3 linked regions of the Homo sapiens genome follow. The protein of the gene in region 2 interacts with the protein of the main gene of each other region in a pairwise test. Each region holds a gene or a part of one and is shown on either strand. Other genes may lie near its edges.

Region 1 (5,771 bases), on a different chromosome or scaffold from region 2:
GAGTCCACAATAAATTCCCAAGCTTTTTTTGATGTAGATGAATTGAATGAGTGGCTGGTCAGAGGCTGAGACAAAAAGAGCTCCCTGCATTCAGGGCAGCCATTAAATGCAGTCCCTGCTGCCATATCACGCAGCTGTTTCTCACTGAGGTGTGGGAAATTGGGAATTTTTTGTAAACAAAAACGTTATCTGCAAATATAAGAGATTATTTGTCCTATTGTTAAAAAAACTCAAGTATATGACTTGCTAATACTTACTTCCAATGTCATTTCTACTATATTGAGAGTTAAATGTAAGTGTCCTTGGGCAGAAAGAGAGGACCTCAGCTTGGACAAGAGTCTGCCCTTTACTAGCTACATAACATCACACATTAAATTGTTCTCAGCTGAAAAAATGGAGGTAATAACACACGACCATCTGTTTTGAGAATCAAATTGGATAATACCTATGGTATGTGATATGTGTGTAAATCTCATATCAGGAATGCTTTCATATAAAACAAAACACCATATGAGATGAGGATGGTTCAGAGTTTATTCAGAAACATATAGCTAAGAATCTCTGCTGGTAGCAGAAACATAACCCAAAGTTATGAAAAGAAGAAAGAAGGATACAAGAACCATGAGGAGGATATTGAAAACAAAAATATGATTGCAAAGATTATTGATCAGTTGCAGAAACCTAAATTCCTTAGAAGCAGAGAATGAAGCTCTTGACTTTTGAGTCAAAGCTGAGACCATGACTCAAAATTGAGAACACACGAAGCTGGCACATGATCCACAAAGTGTAAGGAAAAAGAGAATCAGGATGAAGTATTCTGCCCTCCCTCAAGTAGATTCCCAAGATTTTAAACAGGTAGAGAATTCATAAAAATTTGGGTGAGAGCATGGTGGCTGTCAGCAGCAAATTAAATTAGTCCCCCAAAAGATAAGTCAGTTGAGCAGAAAGTTGTTGTGTGAGGATGGTGGTTCTCTTGGGACTTGATCAGCAGCAAAAAGGCTGACAGCAGCTGGACACACAGGTGGGCTGGAAGCAAGTGGTCTCACAGCAGGCTGGGCGGCAGCAGGGCTGGCAGCAGTTGGAGCCACAGCTCTGGTTTAGGCAACCAGGCAGGCAGACAGTTGTGGGGTAGTAGCAGGTTCTTCTGCAGTACACAGGTGCACAGGAGCTGCTCTGGTCACAGCTGGACCCACAGCAGGTGGGCTGGCAGCAGGGTGTGCTGCAGCAGGAAGGCTGGCAGCAGCTGGTCACACAGGTGGGCTGGCAGCAGGTGTTTTGACAGCAAGTTGGGCGGCAGCAAGGCTGGCAGCAGCTGGAAACACAGCAGGAGGGCTGGCAGCAGGGTGTGCTGCTGCAGGTGGTCACAGTGGTGGGCTTCCAGCAGGTGGTCCTGCAGCAGGTGGTCCTGCAGCATGTAGGCTGACAGCAAGGGGAGCAACAGTGGGTCATGGTGTCAGGGGTAGAGGGTGGGCTTCTGTTCAGAGGTGAGTTTCCCAGAATCTGATGACCCCTTGCAATCTGGACCTTTTATACACCTGGCCTCCAAAGTTTCCACCAATCAGCAGGACTTTTCCTTGTTTCCGTTTACATTGTTTTCCCAGTCCGTTTGTGATTCTCAAAGGGTAGTTGTTTCCTTAAGGTTAAACAGATTAAGGTTTAATCTGTTTCTTAATTGTGAATTACTCATAGACACTTTGTTTCAGATAAAAGGAAGGCAATCTCATCATCAGCATCATTCCTGTTCTGACCATCATCTGGTCATGTGATAGTTCCTGTTGATCTGGGAGGCTCAGGAAGTTCTCTCTGGCCAGCCTCATGTTTGGCTGTATGTAGACTGGGAAGTGTCTGTGGGGAGAAGCATGATGCTGATATATTTACAGTGACAAAATGAATCCATGCCTGGGCCCAAGACTAGTCACCCACCAAATTCTGACTCAAGACTAGCAGGCATCTCTCTGTGCAACCCACACCACCTGTCTTTCAGTTCTTTGAACATCACTTGGGAAGAGGGTGTTTGTCACAGTGTGTTCCATGTGGCAGAGCAGATCGAGAGCAGGTGGATGCAGATAAATCCACTGGGATTTAGACAGCATCAAGTAATCTATGCCCTGAGTGACCATTCATTCTGACTTGTCTGTGAGCGTGGCGATTCCAGAATGAGAATGTAGGACTCTCTATGGCATAAATGCTTGAGATTCAGGCCAACCAGCATGTGCTGTGGCTCTAGTCGCAACCCGGTTACTAGCACAGTAAGCAGCATGTCTTCTCTCTCTCTCTCTATTTCTTTTTAATGAAGGAATTAGATGAGTTGAGATGATGCCTGATTCATCATGGAGTTCTAACATGTTTAAAACATTTTCTAGGTATACCATTCATTTGAGAAGAATGCAAATTATTAATTTTCAACTTGATATAGTATTATATTGTAAATACATCTGTGTCCCCATTACATCTATGTTAGGAAATAGAAATTAATTCCATTCTCTCCCAATTATATGCTCTTACTCATTCCCAAAGACAGCTAATCACTCTATCAGTTGTAATCCTGTAGGTAATTTTTGGTTTTTTAAAGTTTTCATGTGAATAAAAAGTATAGTATTTGCTTCTCTATTTCTTTGGCATAAACAAAAGTAATCTTTATCGCCTAGTCATTTTGGACTCTTCATATAAGCAAAGCAGCAGACAGAGAAAGTAGTTACTATTTGGTGAGGGATAATTACCCTCAAGCCATATAGTGTAGCAGAATATATCTATAGCTCAGGAGATTTACTGAGTATATTAATTTACTAGCACTGCCCTGATGAATTACTGAAAAAAAGTGGCTTAAATTTATTTATCAAAGTTCTGAAGGCCTCTTTTCTGAAATTAAGGTGTTGGCAATGTTGTTTTCATCTGAAGACTGCGAGGGAAGTATCTGTTCCACGTCTCTCTCCCTGACGTGTCAAAGTCTATCATCTCCAAGTGTGTTTGACATAATTTTTCTATTATATCCATACTGTCTCTGAATTTCTCCCTTGTGAATAGACACAGTCATATTTAATCAGAGGCCTAATTGTTTCCAATATGACCTTGTCTTATCAGATAACACTTTAGATGATTCTATTTGAATATGAATTTTGAGGGACGCAAATGAACCCATAACACTGCAGAATCTCACAGTGTGTCCATGCCTAGTGATAACCACAAATGAGTAAAAACAACAATCACGGTGGACAATGGTATAGTAACCAGGGGCTCAGACCCTTCAGGAAGGATGCTCTGAGCTACTCTATCAGCAGTTATCTAGACCAACAAGAGTGCTGGCCAGGGGTGAAGGGAGAATAGAACTCTTGGTAATTAACGGAGTTTATGAAACTTAGGTGCACTGTATTATAGCAGAAGTAAGTGTAGATTATTTAATTGGCCTTCGTTTTATATCTCACTTCCTCTCCTTTCTTTTCCTTTCCTTCCTCTTTCTTCTTTCTTTCTTTCTTTCTTTTCTTTCTTTCTTTTCCTTCCTTCCTTCCTTTTTTCCTCCCTTCCTCCCTCCCTTCCCTTCCCTTCTCTCTCCCTTTCTCTCTCTTTCTTTCTTTCTCTTTCTTTCTTTCTTTTTATCTTTCTTTCTTTCTTTTTTCCTTCCTTCCTTCCTTCCCCTCCCTCAGTTCCTCCCCGCTCCCTCCTTTCCCTCCCTCCCTCCTTCCTGTCCTTCCTTCCTTCCTTCTTTCCTTCCTTCCTTCTCTCTGTCTTTCTGTTTTTCTTTCCTTCTTTTCTCTTTCCTTCTCCTCTCATCTTCTGTCCCTTCTCTTCCTCTGCTTCCTCTCTTCCTCTTCTTCCTTCTCCTAGAGGTTGTGGCTGCCCATCCTATTTAAGTAGCAAATATTTGACTTGAGTGGAGCTAATTGTAGATTGTAGACAAGTTTTCATGACTGCACCCATATATCTTGGATGTTACTGTGCTTGGATCAATTTCCATCTGTCAAAATCTGCATCTCTGTGCCTAAGGGCTCTTGTATTGCAGCTGTAGAAAGTCATGCCACCTGTGAATGCAACACAGAGAAAAACACTCAACCAATGATTCTGGAGAGCTGATTTATAAAGACTTTAGCTTCCTCATTCCTGAAGTAGGGTAATTCTAGCTGTGTGTTTTTCATCATTTCTGATAGTTTTCCCTTTAGTTTAAGCTTTAGTTGGTGACTGTGATACTGACTTAATAGTGTGCCTTCTTCTGTATCACTTCCCCAGTCCCTACCGGTGTGATCTGCACTTCTCAGTAAACTAGTTTCCCTGGAATATTTTCTTCAAAGTCTCTTCTGGGAGAAACTAATCTATGACAATACGTTAACTCTCTCAGCCTCAAATTTCTCATCTCTACAAGGGGAACATTAATACCTATTTTGAAAGTTTGTTAAATAGTTAATAATAATGTACACAAAGCATTTATCCAGTACCCATCATAGAGCAGGCAACACAGAATTAGTGTTTTTTGTTCAGAAAATTCCCAAGTTTTATGTTGAAGATAAGAATATTTTTGTAATAATTAAATAGATCAACTAAATACGTTTTTTTCTAGCTGTATTGAGGTATAATTGACAAACAAAAATTGTGTACATTTCAGGTATAGAAGGTGATGCTCTGATATATATATTGATTGTGAATAACATATTTATTAGGTCACTTAGTTACCATTTCCTTTTTATTTTTCTGGTGTGAACATTTAAGATCTACCTTCTCAGTAAATTTCAGGTATATGATAAAGTGTTTTTAACTATAGTCATATTACTGTACATTAGACCTACTGAACTTATTCATCTTTCATAACTGATGCTAGTCAAAGAGAATGTCCTAGTTTTCATCTCCTTTACTTCATCCCTGAACGATGATGACAGTAAGTGGCTGTTGTCTCTTAGCCAAGTCTTCAGAGCATTCTAGATTCACAGTCTCAGAAGTGGCATCTGTCATGGAAATCTACATTGTTAGCTCATCAGAGGTATTTCTACCACTCCCCTGCTTGTAGGAGGCCCCAAGAAGGTGACCTAGGTCCCCAATCTTTGTATTTCTCACAGATCCAGTATCAATCAACCTTCCGTGGGTGAATGCTTAGCTTGAATCAGTTCAGGACCCGAAGCAAAAACCTCTGTCTATCATGACTTCTGTTTCTTTTTTTTTTCTTTCTTTTTTTTTTTTTTTTACTTTAAGTTCTAGGGTACATGTGCACAATGTGCAGGTTTGTTACATATGTATACGTGCACCATAATGGTGTGCTGCACCCATTAACTCGTTATTTACATTAGATATATCTCCTAATGCTATCCCTCCCCACTCCCCTCACCCCATAATAGGCCCCGGTGTGTGATGTTCCCCTTCCTGCGTCCAACGGTTCTCATTGTTCAATTGCCACCTATGACTGAGAATGTGTGGTGTTTGGTTTTTTGTCCTTGCGATAGTTTGCTGAGAATGATGGTTTCCAGCTTCATCCATGTCCCTACAAAGGACATGAACTCATCCTTTTTTATGGCTGCATAGTATTCTGTGGTGTATATGTGTCACATTTTCTTAATCCCATCTATCATTGATGGACATTTGGGTTGGTTCCAAGTCTTTGCTATTGTGAATAGTGCTGCAATAAACATACGTGTGCATGTGTCTTTATAGCAGCATGATTTATAATCCTTTGGGTATATACCCAGTAATGGGATGGCTGGGTCAAATGGTATTTCTAGTTGTAGATCCTTGAGGAATCACCACACCGTCTTCCACAATGGTTAAACTAGTTTACAGTCCCACCAACAGTG
Region 2 (8,187 bases):
TGCATGGTGTCATGTGCCTATAGTTCCAGCTACTCAGGAGGCTGAGGCATGACAATCACTTGAACCTGGGAGGCGGAGGTTGCAGTGAGCTGAGATTGCACCACTGCACTCCAGCCTAGGTGACAGTGCGAGACTCCTTCTCAGAAAAAAAAAAATTCATACGTTAAATGTATTAAAATAACATTTCCTGGTCAAATGTGAGAAACTTGAGAACAAATATAGAAGTTAAAGGCTTCCTTATGTCAAGTTCTTAGAGCCCTTGAGATGTAAATGTGCTCTGCAGACCTGCAAAAGGAAATAAGAATGCAGAGCACGTCCCAAAACTCGTTGACTACCGAGCATTTTCCTTTTTCCTAGTGTCATATCCTGGGGCTAGGATTCTGTTGAACATATTTTAGAAATTCTTTGTTTTAGCCAAAGCAGGTGGGAGGCTTGATGGATCAATGTGATTGTGAACAACATATGAGAATATATTATGTTTCTCTTCATGAAATATCTAACTCAATTCTGAGGCCAGTCATGAACATACTGGAGGGACATAGAGTGACAGAAAAACTTCTTTAGCTCTAGTTTATAGCAGAAGTCACCATCTGTAAGAGCTTAGGGTCCTTGGAGGCACCTCTCTGAATCTGAAATGACCCCCTAGCATGTGTCTGGTGGTATTGTCAGCCAGTGGAAATGGAGGCCAGGTGGGTGAGCACCCTGGTTCCCTTGATCACCCTTCCTTGGTGCAGGATGTAACCAAAGTGGAATTGTCAAATAGTCCTCTTGTGGGTGGTGCCCAGTTCATCAAGCTGCACCATTCTACTCAGCAATGAGGAGTGACAGAGCTTGCAAGCCAATGTGAGCCTATCACAGGCTGTATAATGCCTGAAAGATGCCCTTTTGGAATAATTCCTTGACAGAAGTGACATTAACTACAAATATTACATTACCAGATCGTCACACTAAGCAGAAAGGAATAACCTGCATTGGAATAAGGATTTGGAATTAATTCAGTGAACACTGCAGCTTGATCATAGCTTCAGATATCTCTGCCTTATCATTAGCAGCATTCTTTATTCCCCCCGGGCTCTGACTCCAAACACAAGATGCACACTTGACTTCCTTTTCAGTGAGAGCTATTCAAACCCCAGCGGTTCTCCACTTATTACACATATTATTACTTTGCTCAGTGTGTCTCCCCATACCCAATGCCTTCGAATTGATGACCCGGTCAACTCTGTGGTCAGAAAGTTAATGTACCAGGTCAGGTTTCCCTTCTCTGTTCTCTCTTGCACCTCAGTTGTATCTCCTTGCTAGCCCTTGTCACAGGGCTGTTACACATTGCCCCATGTGTAACACGGAACAATGAGCTCTTTGAGTGTGAGGACTCTGCCTTGTATCAGCATGGCCAGCACCCCACATGATTGTAGCTTCTAGTGAACATTCAACACTCAGGGAAAGAATGAATTGGCTGCAGTTACCCATGAGACCCTCAGTTCCTTTGCTCTGCCTGAAACATAGACAGGATGGTGGACCTCCTCAGGCTCAAGCCTCATTTTCTGCAACAGAAAGTGCCCCCAAGTATACATTTGTTTTGGCGTTTAATAGGCATCTGTACAGTACAAATGTATTCCTTTTTAAAATCAGTGTCCTTCTCTCAGGTAGCTAACCTTCTCCGCATTGGCCTGAATCTCAGATTGCAGAGGAGCTGTGAGACTTTGGGAGGTGGGCAGCACAGAGCCAGGCTGAAAGCATCACAATCAGTGGTACCAGTGGGTCATTCACTGGACAGGGATGCCTGGGTGACCAGTGGGTTGTTGTCTTAGCTCAGTGTCCTTGGAATCAAAAACATCTGGACATGTGTCTGATCAAGGGTGAGATGAGCCCTAGGATTTTTCCAAATATTATTGGATTAAAGCATTTTTATTAATTTGCATAAATGAGATTCCTCAAGCAAACCCCCTAACAACCATTGTTAATTTGCTAAGCCCTGCTGCAATTGCCAGAACTCCTGGAGTGTGTAAGGAAAATGTGCATTGTGCAGTTTGCAGTGCATCAAATCCTGTGCTAAAGTTATGTGACTTTTATATCAATTTGGGGAGACTCATTTTTCCTCACTATAATTTACAGACCTCTTTTCATTGGCTGGGAATGCAATTTGCCAAATGGATTACATTTGGTACTTTATTTTCTCTTCATAGCTAGTTCTTCTGTAATTTATTTACAGTTCATCAGCCTCAATGGATGGGTTGTAAATCAGCAGGCAGCTCTCTCAGTTAAATGGTCAGGCTGCTGTGGAAGTGTGTAGGGGGGTGCAGTGGGGAGGGCCCTTTAACTCATTGTGTTCTGAGCTCTGTTTCTGTCTGCTGAGGTGGCTGTCCCTATTGAAGACATGCAGAGGATCCATCTGCGATTCATGTTTCGACATCGGTCATCTCTGGAATGTGAGTACCATACTGAATGGCATCTCTGCACCTCCCCCTAAGGGGAGAAGAATGGAAGAGCTGGGTGGCCCATGTATCATTTTCTTTCCTGACCCCACAATGCTATTTCCAGCTAAAGATAAAGGAGAAAAGAACTTTGCCATGTCCTATGTGAAGCTGATGAAAGAAGATGGGACTACTCTACACGATGGATTCCATGACTTAGTTGTCCTCAAGGTACCATGAGTTGGAAGGAGCTCTGCACTGAGGGGAGTGCAGGAAGAAAGGGGGTGATGGCAAAATTGCTTAGTGGTCAACAGCAGGGACCCCAGAATCACACACACCAGAGTTTACCAACTTTGTGGCCTCTTATAAACTCTTGACTTCTCTGGGCCTCTGTTTCCTCATCTTTGTGCCCTCAGTGAATATTTGTGAAAATTATGAGACAGTGGATGTAAACATAGCAATGATGAGTACATGGAAGAACTCAATACATGGAAAAGGTTATTGTTATTTACAGAAAGGTTATTGTTAATGACTGTTATATACTCTTGACTCTGTAGGGACCTCTGTGGCATGTGTAGAGGATGTACAATAAACATTTGAGAGATGCTGCATTGTAGCTAATGGGAAAATATTAAAACCTGCAGTCCTGATCCTGCTGCTGACTAAGCCTGGACTCATCTCACATATTTTCCTGAGTCTCAGTTTCTTTTTTCTTAAGCAGTTGTGGCAATATTTATGACAACCCACTAGGATGACCCATGAAAAATGGCCATCTAAACTATAAAGGGAGTGCAGATGTCCACTATTTTTATTTTTACATTATGAGACTTGGACTGTTTTTGAGACATGGAGGAGCATTTGTCTGGTTTTTACCTGCTGCTTTTCCACATGTCCTCTTATGACAACAGAATGCATCTACTAGCACCTGGCTGGAGGCAAGTGTATGGCTGTGAGGTGGAGCAAGGTTGAGTAGCCAGCACATGGATCACACCCTTGCCCTTGGCTTTCTTAGCCTTGTAGGCTGAAATTGCCCTTTTGCCTGTGGGATGCATGGCAAACACAGCCTCGTCAAGGCTTCATCTCATAGTACTCTTGTACTCTTCTCTGAGTCTCTCTGACTTTTCCAGAAAACCCCCTTTCTTCTGTACAGCCTCTGTTTTCTCATTTATCACACATAGAATTCTTGGCTTGAAAGCCCTTCTTCCCTGACAGAATGTGAACTCCTTGGGGTCAGAGGCCTAGTTGCAGTCAATTTTCTTTTACTTACCCCCATTAGGTCCCAGTTTCCTTGACTGAGGATAATAACAGTGTCTGCTTCATATGTTTGTTATGAGGCTTAAATGAAATGAACCAAGACATATAAAACACTTGGTTTCACTCCTGGTGCGGAGTAAGATAAATGTTATCTTCTGTAATGCCTACCTCTAGTCATTCATTTTAACATGCCACTCATTTATGTGTGTATCACTCTGCTATGTATTCTATATGCATTATTCCATATTATCTGCTCAGGTATTCTAGGAAGTAGGGATGATGATTGTCTTCAGTTTACTAATGAAAAAAAAAATGAGACACAAAGAGGCAAAATAGTGTATTCAAGATAGCATAGACCTGTGAATGGCAAAACAGGGTCCAGATCCCAGCACACTCTTACTTAGTGCCTTTGCCATTAAATTCCTCTTTAAGCTAGAGTCCTTATTTTGCTGGTGAGCAGATATTATGGTCTCAAAAAAAGGATGAATTAAAATGTACTGTCTGGGAATTTTCAATTCCGTTTTTATTTTGCCATTAATGAGGTTCACAGAGCTTTCACCTGGTGGATCAACCCCCTTTCTATTAATGTGTCTTTGAATTCTTACCTGTATTGTGGAAAAACAGTCCTGCCTCACCAGCCAATGTCTATTGCTTCTCTGATGATTTTCTTCACTCTTTATGACTCTCCCCACTTCACAGTGTCTAATTTGTCTGCTGCAGGCTCTGTGTGGCATTGGGCATGGAGCCTTGGCTTGGGGCAGTAACCAAGTGTTGTTTCCAGGGGGACAGCAAGAAGATGGAGGATGCCAGCGCATACCTGACCCTTCCTTCTTATCGACACCATGTGGAAAACAAGGGGGCCACGCTGAGCAGGAGCTCCAGCAGTGTTGGGGGGCTTTCTGTCAGCTCCCGGGATGTGTTCTCCATTTCCACCCTGGTGTGCTCCACAAAGCTCACTCAGAATGGTAATCGGGTCATCAAGAGTTGTGTCTGTGGGGAGTGTGTGTGTCCGTGTGTGTGTACATGTGTGTATGTGCTTGCAGACCCAAGGAGGTCCTGATATGGACAGTTAGGCCAGTAATGATACTTCTGAATGTCTGGACTCTATTTTAGTGGGCTTGCTGGGTTTGCTGAAGTGGCGTATGAAGCCTCAACTGCTACAGGAGAATTTAGAAAAGTTGAAGATTGTGGATGGAGAGGAAGTGGTGAAGGTCAGTGGGGCTTCATTTTGATTGTATTCTTACACTAGTGACAGAACTCTCCATGTGGGTGGCTTCAGGGGAAAAACAAGGTATTGAAGGACATGGGGAAACTTTTCTTCCAACAGTAGGATACACTCTCCCGAGTTGCCTTGAGGAATCTTTATTGGGAAATCCAGGGGAGTGACTTGGTTCAATGGCACTGAATGTTGGGTGCCAGAAAACAATGGTTATGCTCAATCTCTGGAAATAGATGAGCCTGGGTGTAAATCCCAGCTCTCCCACATGCCAACTTTATGTGATAATATAAAAGTGACATAGTTCTCAGGGCTGTTATGAGCATTCAAGGTGATAATATTTAAAACTTACTCAACAGTCTCTTACACATAGTACACAACAATTAAACCAAAGCATATAAAACAAAGTTCAATAAATGGTAATTATTATTTTTGTTGTCATATGTTGATATATATGTATATGCATATATATGTATGTATGTGTGTGAGCATATATATGTGTGCATATGTATATATACATATATATATAGTAGTATGATCTGTTAGTACTACCCACAGATCATTGTTAGAAATAAAAAGTATTCTTGGTTTCTGCTGCTTGGAGAGCATTATGTATTAAAGACGGGAAAGGGAAAGACATCAGGGCTTACATTTTAAGTGAAATAAGCAGAAAACAATGCAAATGTCAGATGTATTATTGCATCCACATGGTAGTGGAGAATAGAAAGCGTCTGAAGTGCAAATCTAATTAAAGCAACCCTTCTCTCCAGCCTTATGAATTGGGACAAGTGTTTCCCAATGGTCCTGGAGATCTTGTTTCCTTGATACAGCTAGAAATTCTGAGATTAAACATCTTTATATGGTAGCTCTGTGTTTTGAGGGATTATAGGAAATATTGACCCATCCCTTAGGAGGGAGGAAAATCAAGTTTTATTTAATTGCCTCTACCTGGAGAAGCAGTGGCAGAATTTCCAGATGCCGTAAATGTATACCACTGACCCATCTACCTCGTTCAGCAATGGCAGAGTAACTCCCCAAGACACCACTTTAATAAAGTCTATAGCCTTTTGGTAGCTTGGAGAAGTCATGGAAGAGATGAGGCTTTTGTTGTCTTCCTCTTGCATTCTTTTTTCTTTTTTTTTTTTTAAAAAAGTTTGTTATTTAAATATGATATACATATGATGAAATAGATACAGAGCAGTTATCTTAAGAGTATAGCATAATGGATTTTTACACACGTAAACACCATGTGTACTCACCACCCAGAAGAGGATACAGACCACTTTTAGCATTATAGTAGATTCCCTCATACCCCTTCTCAGCCAGTAGTCCCCCGGGGTAATCACTGTCCTGACAACCATCATTGTAGATGGGTTTTTGCCTACTCTCAAATTTCATAAGAATGGAATAGTGAAGAGTGTACTTTCTGTGCCTGATGTATTTTACTGCATATAATGCTTGTGAGAATCATCCTCATTTCTGCCTGTGGAAGTAGTTTGCACTTTAGTCCAGCTGTGTAGTATTCTCTAGTGTGAACATGCCACCATCTGTGCATCCATTCTGCTGTTGATGGGCAGTTGGGTTCCTCCAACTTCTGGCTCTCGTGAGTAAAACTACTCTAGACGTTTTGAGCATGACATGTGGTGGATGTGTGCTCTCATTCTCTTATAGATAGTTAGGAGTGGGATTGCTGGTTCACCTGTACTTTGTCTTGTTTCTGAAGTAGTGCAACCTTTGTTATTTCTTCCAGTTTCTCCAGGATACTCTGGATGCCCTCTTCAACATCATGATGGAGCATTCTCAAAGTGATGAATATGACATCCTCGTCTTTGATGCCTTGGTAAGAGAGAGGGGAAAAGTGTCTAGTGACAACAGGCATTAATGTATGTCTTACTGTGAAAATACTGAGAACTCATGGCCCTCATGGCCCTCATGGCCTTTTTCATGAATTCTTTGGAGGTGTTGTAATGTTTGGCAACAAGACCAATAATGAGCTGCTATTTCCTTTTGCTTCTTGCCAGTTCATTTGAAAGCATGAGGCATTGTGGGTGAAAGGGGAATTTTAAATGCTGATGTCAGATTGACACTGGCTGAAGGTACATGAGGCTGGATATTGTGAATGATTGCTTCTGCTTTCTATGAATGTTGGGAGCTAGTCCCTGGCTAGGTTGTAAAGCACCAAAAATGTTTCTTAGCTTTCCTTTCACCTTCTTCTCCCCATTTCCTCCAACTCACTAATCATTACATTTCTCCTACCCACCCAGAACTTTTCATGATGCTGTACCATCCAGATCTTCCTTCTTTTAGTCCTCCCCTATGGTCTTTTTGTCCTCTCCCTATCTCGACTCAGATTTTCTCAGTGTTATGTCAAAATAAACACAAGAAACATCTGCATTAGGGAATCAGTGCCCAACAAAGTTTTTAAGTGTTAACCCCTTGTGTCATGGATATTTGCATTTTTAAAGAGGTTACTGAGAGACAACTGTGGCTTAATCAAGTGCTTCCCCAGAGAGTACCCTAGAATGCTAGCTCTCAGAAAAGATGTTTCATGACAAATATATACTTTGATTAATTAATTTAGGGAAGTGTTGAATGTTGCATGACCCTTTTAGAGATTCACAATGTACATAAGTATATTAAAGATTCTAAAAAGTTTTGCAATAAGAAAGTCTAATAATGATAACCTGACATTTCTCAAAACCTATTTGACCATGAAATCCTTTTCATCTTATAACACCCCACAGCACACTTCATGAAACATTTTCTTTGGGAAGATGCTACCTTAATAAAGAGAACTCATTATGTATTAGTGAGCTAATTCCTGGGCAAAGGATTTTAATGGGGGTTGAATTATGCCAGGTAAAGATGGCTTCCTGCCCTGGGTTTGCCCTGAAAATACTGCTGCCTTGCATCTTCCTCAGATTTACATAATAGGACTCATTGCAGACCGGAAATTTCAGCATTTCAACACCGTTCTGGAGGCTTACATCCAACAGCATTTCAGTGCGACCTTGGCTTACAAGTAAGTAATTGTGCACATGGGAACTTCTTCTCTACCACCCTCTTGCCCTGCCAGGATGCCTAGGGCACAGGAACTTGAGTAATTTTCTTTTGTGACTCATCTGTGTGAGCTCTCCATTCTCTAACAAAATCTAACCTATGCTTGGGTTATTTGGATATCATTAAAAATGTGGAATACCCATAGGTTTGGATGAATGCCTTATGGTTGCAGTGGTACCTGGAAGTGCTCATTCATCCATTCAGCTAGCGTGCTCTCATTTCTTGAGTGGACACCAGGACTTA
Region 3 (7,016 bases), on a different chromosome or scaffold from region 2:
AGCTGGGTATGATGGGGGACACCAGTAATCCTAGCTACTCAGGAGGCTGAGGCAGGATAATTGCTTGAACCTGGGAGGCAGAGGTTGCAATGAGCCGAGATCGCGCCGCTGCACTCCAGCCTGGGCGACAGAGTAAGACTCTGTCTCAAAAAAAAAAAACTAGAAAATAGGCCCACAGCAGCTACAGAAACAGTAAGTGACTTATCCAATATCACACAACTGGAACCCAGAAAACCAGGCTTCGTTTGTTCCCTCAACAGCCAAGAGCTCTAGTGACTATCTACTGTGGGAAACAGCCTTGCACTAGCTCCCCGAGGAAGGCCTAGCTGTCTTTGTTCTCTGTGGCCTCACTGAGCTCCCCCGTCTGAATTCGCAGACTCCTGCATGCGCCTCTGAGGCAGTGTCCTCAATGGGAAGTTTGACCTGGGTTTGATTCCTGCCTGTGCCATGTGGAGCCTTGAGCAGCTCCTCTGAGCCTCAGGTGCCTCTGCAGAAACAAGATGATACAATCAACGCACCTAGCCCAGCACAGGTAGACTCCAGGTGCTCAATAAATGGCAGCGATTAGCATGATTAGGATTTCCTCTCTGCTGTGTGAACTGGACCAAAAGTTTCCCAGGCTTTAATTGGTCCCTCTCCCAACCTGAGATTGGGACGGGTGGCCACGTCTACATGTCCTCCCAAATAAATGGCCACCCACAGTGGTGGCAGGTGGAATTAGAATGTTAGCCGGGTGTGCCTCCCCATAATGGAGTTCATTTTTTATACAACTGGGAACTTTTTTAATAAAGAGGTGAAATAATCTCATTGCCGCCACTGCCGAGCACAGGACGCATTAGGCGGCTCCCCAGTGAGCTGTTTAATTTTATTAATTTTGCCAAAAAGGTACAGCTCCCCTTCACTAGAGATCCTCCAGGGAGAAAGGGGGACAGCTGGCTGGGTGGCACCACCCTGAGGGGAGTCACAGCGGGACCTTCCAAAAGATACTTTAAAAAGGCCTCTGTCATTGTTGGTGGCACAGCCCCTGTATCTTCCTGTGCCCTGTCTGCAAATAACACAGCTTCAGCCTCCAATGCCTCTGATTTTTCATGGGAATCATCTGCCACACTGTTTTTGCATCTGCAATTGTGTTTGATTACCCCAGAGAAGGTAACCTTATTATAACCAGGTCATTCACAGCTAAAGTCAGCATCGTCATTATAAATCGTTATTTTCAAGGCCTTAGAATTTGTGTGGGAGAAGGAGGAAACACACACATCTCTCCTTCCTGGGATATGACCACGATCGTTTGCTGTCATTTAATGGAAATAATTCCAACCATCTATTCAGTACCTTCTATGTGCCTAGCACTCCACTGATTTACTAAGTTTCTTCAACCTTCACAACAACTCTTGTTATACAGAGTAAGAAACTGAGACTCGGATAGGGGAAGGCACTTGCCCAAGGTTGATAGAAAAGTTGGTCACAAAGTTGCAGCTAGAATCCTGGCCTTCATTCCTAGACCTGCACCCATTTTTTTTTAACCACACAGGGATCCAGAGGGCCTTTCATTGCCTCGGTCCACACATGCCATTTTGCATCACGTGACCTAATTATCTGCTTTCCTCTTGGGTCTTCTGTATTACTTGTCAACCTTAAGCAATGACTAGTGGAAGAGACAGAAAATGTGCCCAAATGTCCCATAAGGCCAGACACCAATTAGCGGAAACCAGTATTTTAGTTCCAGAATACCTGGCAATATTTCAGGGGCCACCAATGCCTACAGGGCAGATCCAAATACAGAAACAGGCCCCTGAAGTATATTTCTTTATTAAAATATAAAAACCCTAACCTACCACTACGTCTGTAGGAGCCCTGTCTTTCTGACTCTGAAAGGAAATTGAACTGTGTGCTGGCCTAGCAGTCCAGGTGGAGTTTATACAAGGCACTCCCGATCCTGAAGGCAGGAGCAAAGTGCCTCAAAGCCAGGACTGTGTCCCCATTCGGCCCACAGGCAGAAAAGCCATCCCAGTGACAAACACTCACTGCCTCCCAGCACCTCTGGGAAGAATATGTCTTGGGTACTGACTGTGGCAATCAAGAAGCCCTGATTGTAGTGGCAAGCAGGAGACACCCGACAGGGGCTGGGAAGTTCAGAGCCCCCAGAAGGCCACGAATTGCTCAGAGGGCCACTGAGTGTTTGGGGGCACGTTGTATGTGTGAGAGTCAAGTCCAGACTCCGTCACTCACCAGCCACGAGATCCAGGGTAAATCCCTTCACCTCCCTGAGCTTTGGTCTCCGCAGTGTCTGGTGTGGAAGAGATGGGTCAGTTTATTTTCTGGGCTCACTTGGTGGGTCTCCTTTCAGCAGGGAGTCAAGAAGGATCTGCCTTTTAAAACGTGTCCTCATTAGAAGAATCACATTAGAAAACATGCAGATCCTCTTTGGTCACAGCTACTGATTTCTCAACATAGGGATCATCTTCATCCTCACAACAACCCTGTGCAATTGGCATTATTGTCCCCATTTTACAGGTGAGGAAACTTCACAGAGCTGACAAATGACAGAGCCAGGATTCAAACCCATGTCTGTTGCTGCGCAGGACTGTGCTCCCTCCTCTACTCAAGAGCTTCCCAGCAGAGCTGAGAGCAACGTGGCCCATCAGACCAAAGTTCTCATGGTCCAGATTAATTTTCTCTTTCCTTCCAACCCTTTCTCCAGGTTCACAACCGAAATCTCCTATCTCTGGACTTTGATCGCGTAACACGCACAGAGAAGATCTATGATGACCACCGCAAGTTCACCCTTCGGATTCTGTACGACCAGGCGGGGCGGCCCAGCCTCTGGTCACCCAGCAGCAGGCTGAATGGTGTCAACGTGACATACTCCCCTGGGGGTTACATTGCTGGCATCCAGAGGGGCATCATGTCTGAAAGAATGGAATACGACCAGGCGGGCCGCATCACATCCAGGATCTTCGCTGATGGGAAGACATGGAGCTACACATACTTAGAGAAGGCAGGTGTCTGTCTCCCTGCATCACTGGCCTTGCCATACAGAAGGCCAATCATTCACGGCCAAGCCCAGCCTGGTGGCCTCAGTGGGCTGTATCTGACCCATGTCACCAAAAGGAAATGTTCAGGAAAGTCTGCCACAGAGGGCATGGGGTCCCAAGAGGCATCAGGATGGATCAGGGAGATAGCATGGCAGGTGGTGGTCCTAGGGCAGGAGAACATGAAAGACCTGCCTGATAGAGTAGAGGCCCAAATACTCACTGGATTTGCAGAGCAGGACTCGGGGTTCAGACCCAGGCCAAGGGTCTGCTCCCAGGTCTAGGGCATGTGGTACAATCCAGTTGTGGAGAACCAGGCAGAAGCCTAGGCATCAGTACATAGGCAGGAGGCACTTACTCCTGAGCTTCAAGTGCTGGGCATGGCCTTAGTAAATCTATTCTGCTCTAGCATCAGAACTCATGTCATCCCAGGGGTAAGAATCAGAAATGACCTAAAATCAAAAGTTGGTCTCAAATAGGAAAAAATGGTAGCTTTGCAGCATAAAGCCTCTAGGCCTTTTATCTGCTGATCTTTTCCTGAGAACAAGTGCACTGCATGCCCCATTTCAAGTATCCAGATCCCTGCTTTGTTTCCTGACCCTGGTGACCTGTCCAGGGCATAGGCTGTGCTTGCTCTGAGGTGGGTCTCCTCTACCCACTGGGTGAGTACCCCCAAAAGTGACATTTTGCGCTAGTACTAAGAGAGAGAGAGACCTTGGAGGTCATCCAACATACTGAAAACCCAAACCCAGAGAGGGGAAGAACTTTCCCAGGGCCACACAAGGAGACTATTGTTAGAAACCAGGTTCTCCCATTCCCATCACAGTCTGCCCTATCCCAGAGTAGGCTTATGACCTGTCATTGTGCAAAGCCTTAAATGCCCTTCTCAAATATGGTCTTCGTGCTGTAAGCCACAGGGAGTCAGCGGAAACTGTTTAGCAGGTAAAAGAAATTGTGAGACTGTGTTTGGAGGAGCTCACTCTTGCCTGAATAGGAAGATTGGTTTGAGAAGTCTGGGGCAAGGAAGCCAGACTGCTGTACATACTTCAGGCCAAAGCTTCTTGGCCGTTCTCACACCCCACCACGCACAAAAGTAACCAGGTCTGTCCTGCACAAAGGGGCAAACCCACGAGGCTGCTCACCATAGGACAGCAAATGGCCTGAGTACCTGGAGGCCTAGGCCCCAGGTAGGTTACAGGTGTGCTAAGGTTAAAGCTGTGCTAAGATGAGGCTGAGAGAAAGCCTCATCTTGGCACATCTGTAACCTATTTGCAGTATCCCGTGACACTCCTGTTGGAGAGCTCTGGTTGGAGCATAACTCAAGAGAACCATGGAAACTCAGGATTCTCCTTGGACATTCATTCCGTCCCTTTAAGTCTCGGGTATGTAGACCTACCCTTTCTCCTCACCACCCTCCTCTCATCTCTTGGTTTTCCTCTCCCTCCAGTCCATGGTGCTGCTACTACACAGCCAGAGGCAGTATATCTTTGAGTTCGACAAGAATGACCGCCTCTCTTCTGTGACGATGCCCAACGTGGCGCGGCAGACACTAGAGACCATCCGCTCAGTGGGCTACTACAGAAACATCTATCAGCCCCCTGAGGGCAATGCCTCAGTCATACAGGACTTCACTGAGGATGGGCACCTCCTTCACACCTTCTACCTGGGCACTGGCCGCAGGGTGATATACAAGTATGGCAAACTGTCAAAGCTGGCAGAGACGCTCTATGACACCACCAAGGTCAGTTTCACCTATGACGAGACGGCAGGCATGCTGAAGACCATCAACCTACAGAATGAGGGCTTCACCTGCACCATCCGCTACCGTCAGATTGGGCCCCTGATTGACCGACAGATCTTCCGCTTCACTGAGGAAGGCATGGTCAACGCCCGTTTTGACTACAACTATGACAACAGCTTCCGGGTGACCAGCATGCAGGCTGTGATCAACGAGACCCCACTGCCCATTGATCTCTATCGCTATGATGATGTGTCAGGCAAGACAGAGCAGTTTGGGAAGTTTGGTGTCATTTACTATGACATTAACCAGATCATCACCACAGCTGTCATGACCCACACCAAGCATTTTGATGCATATGGCAGGATGAAGGAAGTGCAGTATGAGATCTTCCGCTCGCTCATGTACTGGATGACCGTCCAGTATGATAACATGGGGCGAGTAGTGAAGAAGGAGCTGAAGGTAGGACCCTACGCCAATACCACTCGCTACTCCTATGAGTATGATGCTGACGGCCAGCTGCAGACAGTCTCCATCAATGACAAGCCACTCTGGCGCTACAGCTACGACCTCAATGGGAACCTGCACTTACTGAGCCCTGGGAACAGTGCACGGCTCACACCACTACGGTATGACATCCGCGACCGCATCACTCGGCTGGGTGACGTGCAATACAAGATGGATGAGGATGGCTTCCTGAGGCAGCGGGGCGGTGATATCTTTGAGTACAACTCAGCTGGCCTGCTCATCAAGGCCTACAACCGGGCTGGCAGCTGGAGTGTCAGGTACCGCTACGATGGCCTGGGGCGGCGCGTGTCCAGCAAGAGCAGCCACAGCCACCACCTGCAGTTCTTCTATGCAGACCTGACCAACCCCACCAAGGTCACCCACCTGTACAACCACTCCAGCTCTGAGATCACCTCCCTCTACTACGACTTGCAAGGACACCTCTTTGCCATGGAGCTGAGCAGTGGTGATGAGTTTTACATAGCTTGTGACAACATCGGGACCCCTCTTGCTGTCTTTAGTGGAACAGGTTTGATGATCAAGCAAATCCTGTACACAGCCTATGGGGAGATCTACATGGATACCAACCCCAACTTTCAGATCATCATAGGCTACCATGGTGGCCTCTATGATCCACTCACCAAGCTTGTCCACATGGGCCGGCGAGATTATGATGTGCTGGCCGGACGCTGGACTAGCCCAGACCACGAGCTGTGGAAGCACCTTAGTAGCAGCAACGTCATGCCTTTTAATCTCTATATGTTCAAAAACAACAACCCCATCAGCAACTCCCAGGACATCAAGTGCTTCATGACAGGTAAGGACCACGGCTCACTCAGGGGCAGGACCCCATAAAGTGCTCTTACTACCTAACAATACTTAGTCTTCTTTGAGAAAGCTGGCATAAGGTGACAGGAAACACTGACTTTCTCTTAGAGCAGCATTTTCCAAAGTCCGTTTGAAGAAACACTAGTTCAGAAAATACTCTGGAAAAATGGTTCCAGCATCAAATAAATTTGTCAGGGTCACCACCATTATTACATTTTCATAGTACATTTCAGTGTATGATAAGCTCTGGGAAGTGCTATAAAAGTGAACTATTTAATATATTTGCCCACTATTTCTCAAACTTATTTGACCGTAAAAGCCCTTTTTTCACCATGAAATCCTAATATCTCATGGGATACATCCCATGGATTGCACTTTAGGAGTTTCTGACACACAAATCAAACTGCTAATGAGTCCTTGATTGGGTTAAGGTATGGCTTTAAAAAAAAATTAGTTCTCAATTTGGGATAATGTAAGAATGGAGTGAAGGATCCACCAGTTTGAAGCCATGACATGTTACAAAAATTATTTAACTGCCCTGAATTCCAGTTTCCTGATACGTAAATTGAAGTTAGAACATCTACCTATAATTAAATATGTGTATTATAAACCCTAGAGAAACCACTAAAAAGATAAAAACTAAAAAAAGAGTCCTAGCTAATAAGTCAACAGTGGAGATAAAATGGAAGACAAGAAAATAATCCAAAGAGGGCAGGAAAAGAGGGAAAAAAAAGAATAAGGAACACATGCAACAATAGAAACTAACACCTACCTGGTAGGGTGGTTGCAAGGGTGAAGTGAAATACATTTCATGAGGTACTTAGCGCAGTGCCTGGCTCGTGTTGGTTCCCTTTCCTTTACCCCCTAACTTGAAAAGTGAGCTCTGCCTTCCATTACCATGAAACCAACTT

What was found. Proteins that work in one complex are often made in the same cells at the same time.
Region 1: the proteins of DOCK2 (region 2) and KRTAP9-4 interact in binary tests that used the Homo sapiens proteins (3 or more experiments, as listed by UniProt).
Region 3: the proteins of DOCK2 (region 2) and TENM4 interact in binary tests that used the Homo sapiens proteins (3 or more experiments, as listed by UniProt).

The regions. Positions count from the first base shown.
Region 1 is NC_000017.11:41,245,399-41,251,169, reverse strand, and holds KRTAP9-4 (keratin-associated protein 9-4), read right to left. Parts: upstream 1,484-5,771; 5' UTR 1,450-1,483; coding exon 985-1,449; 3' UTR 517-984; downstream 1-516. UniProt on the Homo sapiens protein: In the hair cortex, hair keratin intermediate filaments are embedded in an interfilamentous matrix, consisting of hair keratin-associated proteins (KRTAP), which are essential for the formation of a rigid and resistant hair shaft through their extensive disulfide bond cross-linking with abundant cysteine residues of hair keratins.
Region 2 is NC_000005.10:169,709,579-169,717,765, forward strand, and holds part of DOCK2 (dedicator of cytokinesis protein 2), read left to right. Parts: intron 1-2,356; coding exon 2,357-2,429; intron 2,430-2,541; coding exon 2,542-2,645; intron 2,646-4,449; coding exon 4,450-4,633; intron 4,634-4,781; coding exon 4,782-4,879; intron 4,880-6,634; coding exon 6,635-6,724; intron 6,725-7,805; coding exon 7,806-7,906; intron 7,907-8,187. UniProt on the Homo sapiens protein: Involved in cytoskeletal rearrangements required for lymphocyte migration in response of chemokines. Activates RAC1 and RAC2, but not CDC42, by functioning as a guanine nucleotide exchange factor (GEF), which exchanges bound GDP for free GTP.
Region 3 is NC_000011.10:78,668,015-78,675,030, reverse strand, and holds part of TENM4 (teneurin-4), read left to right. Parts: intron 1-2,701; coding exon 2,702-2,998; intron 2,999-4,479; coding exon 4,480-6,094; intron 6,095-7,016. UniProt on the Homo sapiens protein: Involved in neural development, regulating the establishment of proper connectivity within the nervous system. Plays a role in the establishment of the anterior-posterior axis during gastrulation.